Regions from separate parts of the Homo sapiens genome. Here all the other regions are linked to region 3. The links come from fine-mapping of genetic effects on gene expression. A gene starts in region 3. Each other region holds a variant in brackets. All regions are shown on one strand. Distances are from middle to middle.

Region 1 (2,807 bases), 200 kb before region 3:
ATTTCTGGTGCCCAAGTTTATATATCTAAATATTCCTTTCTAGGCATCTCATACTTTCTATTTCAATGCAAAATTCCATCCCATTCTTGAACCTCAACGAATTCTATTTTTCTAATAATGTTTTTTCTACTCCTACCAAAAATTTTGAGGTTCAATCATTCTCTCCAAAATTTAGTGTTTTTCCTTGCTCAATGCTAAAACATAATATTGTACACAGGCCCCGTAAATATCTTCTAATTGATTTACTTTACTTCTACAACAGAGTACACAGAGCCAAGAGAATTAGCTGTGGGAAGGTTCTGTGCTTAACATCTGATTCAAAGTGAATTAGGCTGTATTTCCCCTTTACATATGTAGCAAATAGGCAACAATATTGCAAATTTTTCTAAATACTACATTCTCTTAATAGCCTATCCATTTAGAACTTTATCTTACTTTCTATATTGTACTGTGGCACTGCAGGATGAAATGTTTTTCTCTACAACTGCCCTTCCTGCAGCATACCTGCAACCTCCAGCCAATAAACATTGAAGAGCTATACTTTTCCTCTGGTTTAATATCTGTTCCATCAAATGGATACTGGTTTTAGGGAACTTGGAGGGAATCTGAAAAATGTAAAGCAAAATCTCAATGGAAGTTGCACTCTCCATAAAGATATGCAGAGGACTGTGACACTTGTATAGAGGGTGATTCCACGGTCCATCTTCCCAGCCTCCTCCACCCAAGTCCAGCCAAACACAAGCTACCATGTACAAGGATGCCCCTGCTCTTTTTGATCGTGCTTGCAACTGTGAGTGTGCTTTCAATTGTCACAATGATGGGGGTGGAGGTGTCACTGACATTTAATTGGCGGAGGTCAGGGTGTTAAATATCCAGAAATGAAAGGAATAGTCTTGTATTAAGAAAATGTGTGCTGCTTAAAATGCCAGTGGTGCTTCTGATGAGAAACACTATAAGGCCATGAAGGAGGTGCTTTCTGGGGAGAAATTATTTCTTTACAAGAAAGTCTATTCACTTCAATGGCACTTTGTGAAATGTACAGATATTTAAATCTTCAAGTATTAGGAAGATGTCAAACTCACAGTGGTGGATACACGTTTTCCAAAAGTCAAACTTTTCCTGAAAAGCTGTAATTTTATCATTGACAACAAATACTGTCAGTTGTATTCTTTGAAGTGATAGGCTCACTGTTTACTTTTGAGGAAACAACTGCCAAATATCCAAATCCAAATAACCCTAGTTTGTCTATCAGATAGATGCTCTTTCAAGTTCAGGGTCACAAATGCCTTTCCTTGAGACAACTATTACATACTAAGCAGCCGAATTGCTTTATGTGTACATCTCATTTTGTCAGACAGAATATTAAAAAGATATACACTCCAGGGTTGAGTTTAAGAAAATATTACTGCTTATGAAGGATACTCTTAAGTAGCACTGGCATTTCTTTCAAGTGAAAATGCTATGGTGGTCAAGAATACAGTGACTTCTACTACAGTTTGGTGCCATTGCCTGGATCTGTGCTAAGGCACGAGCAGTTTTACAAAACCCACCATCGTTTTTGTACCATCGGTGCAAATGTCAACACAGTGAAAAAAGTAGAAATGTCTCAGTACCACTATGAAAATGTTTGA[T/C]TCTATTGGCTTCCTCAAAGGGTCCTGAGGATCCCCCCTCCTCCCAACCTCTCCGCAGCCCCCAGGTCCAATAATAGCACTTTGAGAATCACAGACCTGCTGCAATACGTATTTTAAAAATTTAATTTGTAATCAAACCTTTTTAAAAACCTTAATATTTTCTTACATAGAAGGAAAATTCTAAGCCCGGATGATTACAAAATGAATTCTATGCCAGGCGTGGTGGCTCACTCCTGTAATCCTAGCACTTTGGGAGGTCGAGGTGGGCGGATCGCTTAAGTTCAGGAGTTCGAGACCAGTCTGGCCAACATGTTGAAACCCCATCTCTACTAAAAATATTAAAATAGCCAGGAGTGGTGGCTGGTGCCTGTAATTCCAGTTACTCAGGAGGCTGAGGCAGGAGAATCGCTTGAACCTGGGAGGCGGAGGTTGCAGTGAGCGGAGATTGTGCCACTGTACTCCAGCCTGGGCGACAGAGTGAGACTCTTGTCTCCCCCTCCCCACCAAAAAAAAAAAAAAGAATTCTATCAAACAAGAAGAAATAATTCCATCCTTTCACAAACTCTTCCAAAAAAGAGCAGAGAAAAAAAAAACTTCCCAACTCATGAGGTTAGCATATCTCTAATACAGAAATCTGACAAAGATAGTACAAAAAAAAATTACTTTCTTTTGGTCTTTTCAGACCAATATGCCTGATGAACACAGATACATAAAAAAACTTTAACACAATATTAGCTAATAAAATCTATCTATCTATCTATCTATCTATCTATCTATCTAATCAACCAACCAATCAAATACACTAGGATAATATATCATGGCCAAGTGGCATTTACCATAGGAATGCAAGGGTAACATTAGAAAAAAAATCTATCATATAATTCACCACATTAAGAGAATGAAGAAAAGTCATATATTAATACCGTTAGACATGAAATGCATTTGACAAAATTCAATACCCATTTCCTGACAGACACTCTTAGTAAACTAGAAAACATTTCTATTCAACAGCAGTAAAGGATGACCTAGCCAGTTTAAGACAAGAAAAAAAGATATTATTCATTGACAGATGATTGTTTACATAGAAAACCTTATAAACTTTAGAGAGATACTGCTAGAACTAATAAATAAATGTAGCAAAGTTGCAGTAATCATGGTCCATAAACAAAATGAAAT
Region 2 (2,807 bases), 45 kb after region 3:
TCCCTTAGATTTCAGAGCTCTCAGGAGCTATCTTCCTAGTGCTGAGTCAAAAAAGTCCATACTCCATAAACATGTAAAATGCCATGTATCAATTAAAAAATATATATATGTATGTATCCCTTTATTGAGCCAGCTGCTTTCTTTGCACCAGAGTCCCTGAGGCTGAAGGCTTCCATCAAATTTGGTCCCTTTATGACCTAATCTGGGGCTTGCCTCATGCCCATGCTATGCTATTTTTATTTTTTAAATTAAAAAAAATTTTTTTTTTTTGAGACAGAGTCTCACTCTGTCGCCAGGCTGGAGTGCAGTGGCGCAATCTTGGCTCACTGCAACCTCCGCCTCCTGGGTTCAAGCAATTCTCCTGCCTCAGCCTCCCAAGTAGCTGGAACTACAGGATCATGACACCATGCCTGGCTGATTTTTTAATTTTTTGTGGAATTGGGGTCTCTCACTATGTTGCCTAGGCTGGTCTCAAGTGGTCTTCCCATCTCAGCTTCCCAAAATATTGAGATTACAGGTATGAGCCACCATAACTGGACTTACGCTATTTTTTTTTTTTTTTTTTTTTTGAGATGGAGTCTCACTCTGTCACCCAGGCTGGAGTGCAGTGGCACGATCTCGGCTCACTGCAAGCTCCATCTCCCGGGTTCATGCCATTCTCCTGCCTCAGCTTCCCGAGTAGCTGGGATTACAGGTTCCCGCCACCACATCTGGCTAATTTTTTTTTTTTTTTGTATTTTTAGTAGAGACAGGGTTTCATGTGTTAGCCAGGATGGTCTCAATCTCCTGACCTTGTGATCCGCCCGCCTCGGCCTCCCAAAATGCTGGGATTATAGGCATGAGCCATGACGCCCAGCCGGCCTTATGCTTTTTTAAATGAATCTCCCACTTCTCCTTTCTGCTTCAACATTCCTCAGAGACATCATCATACTAATATAGTGCTTAAGGGCTCAGGGTCAGGGGTCAGAAAGATCTCAATTCAAATCTCGGCCCTACCAGTTACTAGAGCTTGGCAAGTTAATTGACCTCTCTGTGTGTTTCCTAATCCACAAGAGGAAGAAAATACCACCTAGCTCATCGGGCTGAGGCTCACTCCCTGTCTGCAGGGTTGGCCCTTTCCCACACACTCTCACACAGCAGAGGTGACAGGCAGCAGAGGCCACTGGGACTCCCAAGATGCACTTGGTTTATTTGGGGAAGTCATACAAACCATCATCCTACCCTGGTTCTGCTTCACTTCCTTCTCTGGCTCCATCTGCGTGTCCTTCCTCAAT[T/A]ATCTTAGTCATCTTTGACTCTGCCCTCTTATATGCACTTCGTCTCAGATCCTCCCAAACCCTTCTGCAAAGTCCTCTTTGAATCTGCCCTGTCCCACTTCGGACCTTTCTGCCTTTCTCCCAGGCAACTGTGATCTCTCCTCTGCCCGACCTGCATGATGTACTCACATTCATGGTCCTTGGCGTTGCATTGACCCCACCGTCCCTGCTTAAAGAACTTCAAGGTGTCAGCCCTCTCAGAGGAAGGAAGCAGGTCCAAACCCCTCAGCTACTGTTCTTAGCCATTGATTTGGTTTGGCTCTGTGTCCCCACCAAAATCTCATCTCGAATTGTAATCCCCATGTGCCAAGGAAGGGGCCTGGTGGGAGGTGACTGGATCATGGGGGCAGTTTCTCCCATGGTATTCTCATGGTAGTGAGTTCTCACAAGACCTGATGGTTAGAAAAATGTTTGACAGTTCCTCCTTCAGACGCTCTCTCTCTCGCTCTCTTGCCTACCACCATGTAAGATGTGCCTGTTTCCCCTTCCACCATGATTGTAAGTTTCCTGAGGCCTCCCTAGCCATTTGGAGCAGTGAGTCAATTAAACCTCTTTTCTTTATAAATTACCCAGTTTCAAGCAGTTCTTTATCACAGCGTGAAAACAGACTAATACAGCTGTCTTTGCTAGTTTCAACCTTCCTTTCCAGACCCTTCTCTTCTGTATCCCTATAAATCCCCTATATTCCAGCCAGATTGAACAAGTCATGATTCCAACCTTCCCATCATCTCGTCTATACCTTTATCCCAAGTTATCCCCTTTTTAATCTTTCAGAGCCCATCACCATGTGAATTCTCTCACAGAGCTTTCCTTGACGATCCTCACTAGGCGTGATTGCCTTGCTCTAACTTCCTCTAATCTTTGGGTTGTCAGTCATTTTCCTGATACTTGCTAGTCTGGCGCTTACTCAATACATGGTTGTTGAAAGAATGAGCTGCAGTTAACTGGCATGTCAGGAAAGCACCATTGCCACTGCACATTTGTCATGTGAGCCCAGAACTGTGGAAAGATGTGGTTGGAAATTTAAGTCTAGACAAGGTTCTCAGAGAAAGTTTGATACTTTAAAAAGCATGGTTGAGGATCCTTTTAAAATAAGAGCCTCATAAAAGATACATTGAGGTTCAATCTAGACTTTCACACATTGGATTACTGTAAGCCCATCAACCCAAATGAGCAATTTTAAAGCATTCAGTATGATGCTGTCCTTGCCAAAGGATGTTTTACATGATACAGTTATTAGGTAAATGTGTATATCTACATACCTCTATGCACACTACCAATGATTTTATGGCCTAAAGATTAATCTGAAGTTAAGTTCACAGAGTAGGGCAGCTGAGGAAAACTTCAGCTGCACAGACAACTTGGGAGAAAGTGTTACTATGTAAAGGGGCATGATGGGTTTGGATGTTGTCCCCTCTAAAGCTCATGTTGAGGCTGGGTGTGGTGGCTCATGCCTATAATCCCAGCACTTTGGGAGGCCAAGGTGGGTGGATC
Region 3 (2,658 bases):
CTTGCTGTCAATCCTTCTTAACTTTTCCATGCATTCATAAATACGATGAGACTGTAAATAAGACAAAAAAAAAACAGACCCCGATAATGATCAAAGATCTTCGGCGCAATAGGCAATGTCTAACAACTTCAATGGCTTTCTTCAGGGGATTCTCAACGGGATTTCTTGATCTTTCCCAAAATGCTGGGAAGCCCTTTAAGTTTAAACAAACAAAACCTCCAAACGGGAAGGGATGCCAACCTCTCCTAGGCTGCCTGCAGAGCGGGGAGAAACAGGTCTATCGGAAGAAGAGTAGAGATACTCACCTAAGGAGACTCCTCTCCCGAAAGGAATCTGCTTCTCAGCCCCACCCCCAGCTCACCCCAATCCCACGTAGGTCCGCAGATGCTCCCCCCGGGAAGGACGGGACGACCCCGCAGCCGCGATTCAACGCGGCGCGCCCGGAAGCCAACAGCTACTCCCGGGCTCTGAGCGGGAAGTCCTGCTGCAGGCGCCAGCCCGGACCCGGGAATGCTCCTCCCTAGGGTAGGGAAGCGCGCGGGCGCAGGCGTTTACCTGTCTCATCTTCCCATGGTTCGGGGCGAGCAGGCGTGGACCGCGCTCTGCGCCTACCTCCCTCCTCCTTCCCCAGGAAGGCTCAGGGCAGCCGCCGACGGCTGCTTCCCCGGTTACTACAACAACCAACAAGCAACCGCCCGCTCGGAGCCACTGCGCAGGCGCTCATAACGCTCAGCTGCGGACGCGGGCGAATGTCGTCACCGCCGCGCAGCGCGGGCGCAGAGCCCTGCCCTCAGCTGAAGGGAGTCTTCTTTTTTTTTTTTTTTTCCGCTGTTTTTTTCTCCGCCCCTAAGAGGTTGACTCCAAACCCGGAGTTCCGCTAGGTCCAACAGGAGGGCTTACGGCGTGAGCGGCGTACCTGGGGAGAGGCTTAGGCAGCGGCAACCGCTGATTGGCAGTAAAGGGGTTCACTCCCCATCTCCTGCTCGGGCGAAACCGGGACAGCCAATCAGAGAGAGTACTGACGGAAACGGCCCAATCCTGGAGCAGGGCTGAGGGAGGGGGCGGGGACAAATGGCTCAGGTGGACTCCGGGCTGGAGCTGTCCTGGGGGAGCTTGTTTGCGGCAGCGGCTGCTGCTGCCACTGCTGTGCTGGGGGCCCGGTCGCCAGGTAAGGAGAATATGGGGGAGAAGAGGGATGTAGGTGTCTGTGTTGCTTCTGATTGAGAGGATCCGGAGAGTCTGGAAAAATGGAGGTGGGATGGAAGGAAGATAACTGGAAGGCAACCTTTTGGGGGGAAAAGGTTTCGAGAGGCGATGACAAGGGGGAGCTAGGAAGATGGAGAAGGCTTGGTGAATTCAAGGAACGAAGGAATGGATGAGCGAATGAGCAGCCACTATGAGCCTAGCACTGTACAAAGAGCCTTCACTTTTTGTCATATAATTCTTACAATAGCCCTTCGGGTTGATATTTCTATCTCCATTTTGCAGATGAGGAAACCGAGACTGAAAAGTGTAAATGACTTACCCAGGGTCACACAGCTACTAAGTGGTAGGGCCAGGATAAGAATCCCTTTCTCCTGATTAAGTTTTAACAGCACACCTATGCTGGGCTGGGCTTGGCTGGGCTGGGCCAGGGCCAGGACAAAATTTGGAAATAGATGTTGTATACACTCTAAGAGGCCCTTAAGCTTTAGGGAAATTAGGTTGAGAAATTGGCAGAGCAATTCAGAAGTGCTCAGGCTCTGTCCTCATCAGCTATCTGTTGGGATTTCTAACAGATAACACTTCTGTGAAATGGAAGGCATACTTGTGCAGAAAAGTGGAGAGGTGCATCCATGCAGCTTTTCTAAACCCCGGAGGAGTCTCCTCTTGAGAGAGAGTGAGAAAATAAAGAGGATGGGTGGATCTTGGCCCAAATGATAATGGCCTGTGATGTCCAGTAGACCCTCAGTCTCTCTGATCTTCGACAGAGACCACCTTTGTGATCCAGCTCTCCCTGAAGGGCTCATCAATTCACCCTTCCTTCTCTAGATCTCTTTATTGCTTGTTTGGGGCGGGGAGTTGGCGGGGGGGGGCGGCGGTGTTTCACACTGTCTTGGGCCATTGCTGACTTTAATATCTGTCCCACTGGGTAGCAGAGAACAATACCGAAACTTGTATTGCCAAAGTGACAAAGAAAGCCTGTTAGTTTATTACCACTTCAGGCCCAAGAGGTTAACCTGACAACAGATAAACCGTGGACCAAGAAAATAATAATGAGGATGGGAAAAAGTCATTCCATTATTAGATTATTTATCTATTTTGGTTTTATTTAAATCAGACTAACTGAAATTACTACTCAACAAGAGTTGAACTAAGCCTTAAAAAAAAAAAAAAAAAGGCTGGGTGCTGTAGCTCACACCTGTAATCCCAGCATTTGGGAGGCGAGGCCAAGGTGAGTGGATCAGTTGAGCCCAAGTGGAGAGGTTGAGGTAGGAGGATCACTTAAGCCTTTGATTTCAAGGCTGCAATGAGCCATGACTATGCCACTGCATTCCAGCCTGTGTGACAGAGCAAGACCCTGTCTCAAAAAAATAAATAAATAAATAATAAATTAAAAAACAAAAAGTATGTAATCTAATTGTATTTTCCATACAACTTGAAGACAAAAGTGGATAT

Alleles and levels. Positions count from the first base shown, and alleles are read on the strand shown. Sizes are in standard deviations (SD) of each study's normalised expression. Not every link is listed here.
In carriers of allele C in region 1, the expression in monocytes after R848 of the gene that starts at base 1,067 in region 3 tends to be higher than with T alone (large effect, 1.8 SD a copy in Quach 2016).

The links. PIP is the estimated chance that this variant, and not a neighbour inherited with it, causes the effect.
Region 1: its variant is the best candidate, but not a certain one, in a credible set for the expression of ERG28 in monocytes after R848 (Quach 2016, PIP 0.51).
Region 2: its variant is the best candidate, but not a certain one, in a credible set for the expression of ERG28 in monocytes (TOPMed, PIP 0.72).

What each region holds. Positions count from the first base shown.
Region 1 is chr14:75,856,986-75,859,792 of GRCh38, reverse strand. All of the region lies in intron 28 of TTLL5 (tubulin tyrosine ligase like 5), which reads right to left. Among named protein-coding and RNA genes, the nearest start is that of TGFB3, 120 kb to the left of the region's middle. The variant T/C (reference allele first, on the strand shown) is at 1,632.
Region 2 is chr14:75,613,789-75,616,595 of GRCh38, reverse strand. The region is part of intron 1 of FLVCR2 (FLVCR choline and putative heme transporter 2); the gene reads right to left. Among named protein-coding and RNA genes, the nearest start is that of FLVCR2-AS1, 36 kb to the right of the region's middle. The variant T/A (reference allele first, on the strand shown) is at 1,275.
Region 3 is chr14:75,659,285-75,661,942 of GRCh38, reverse strand. ERG28 (ergosterol biosynthesis 28 homolog) reads left to right here and starts at 1,067. Exons shown (of 5, transcript NM_007176.4): 1 at 1,067-1,168. It overlaps TTLL5 (tubulin tyrosine ligase like 5), which reads right to left and starts at 697. Exons shown (of 32, transcript NM_015072.5): 1 at 556-697. RefSeq lists an enhancer at 626-845 and a silencer at 956-1,005.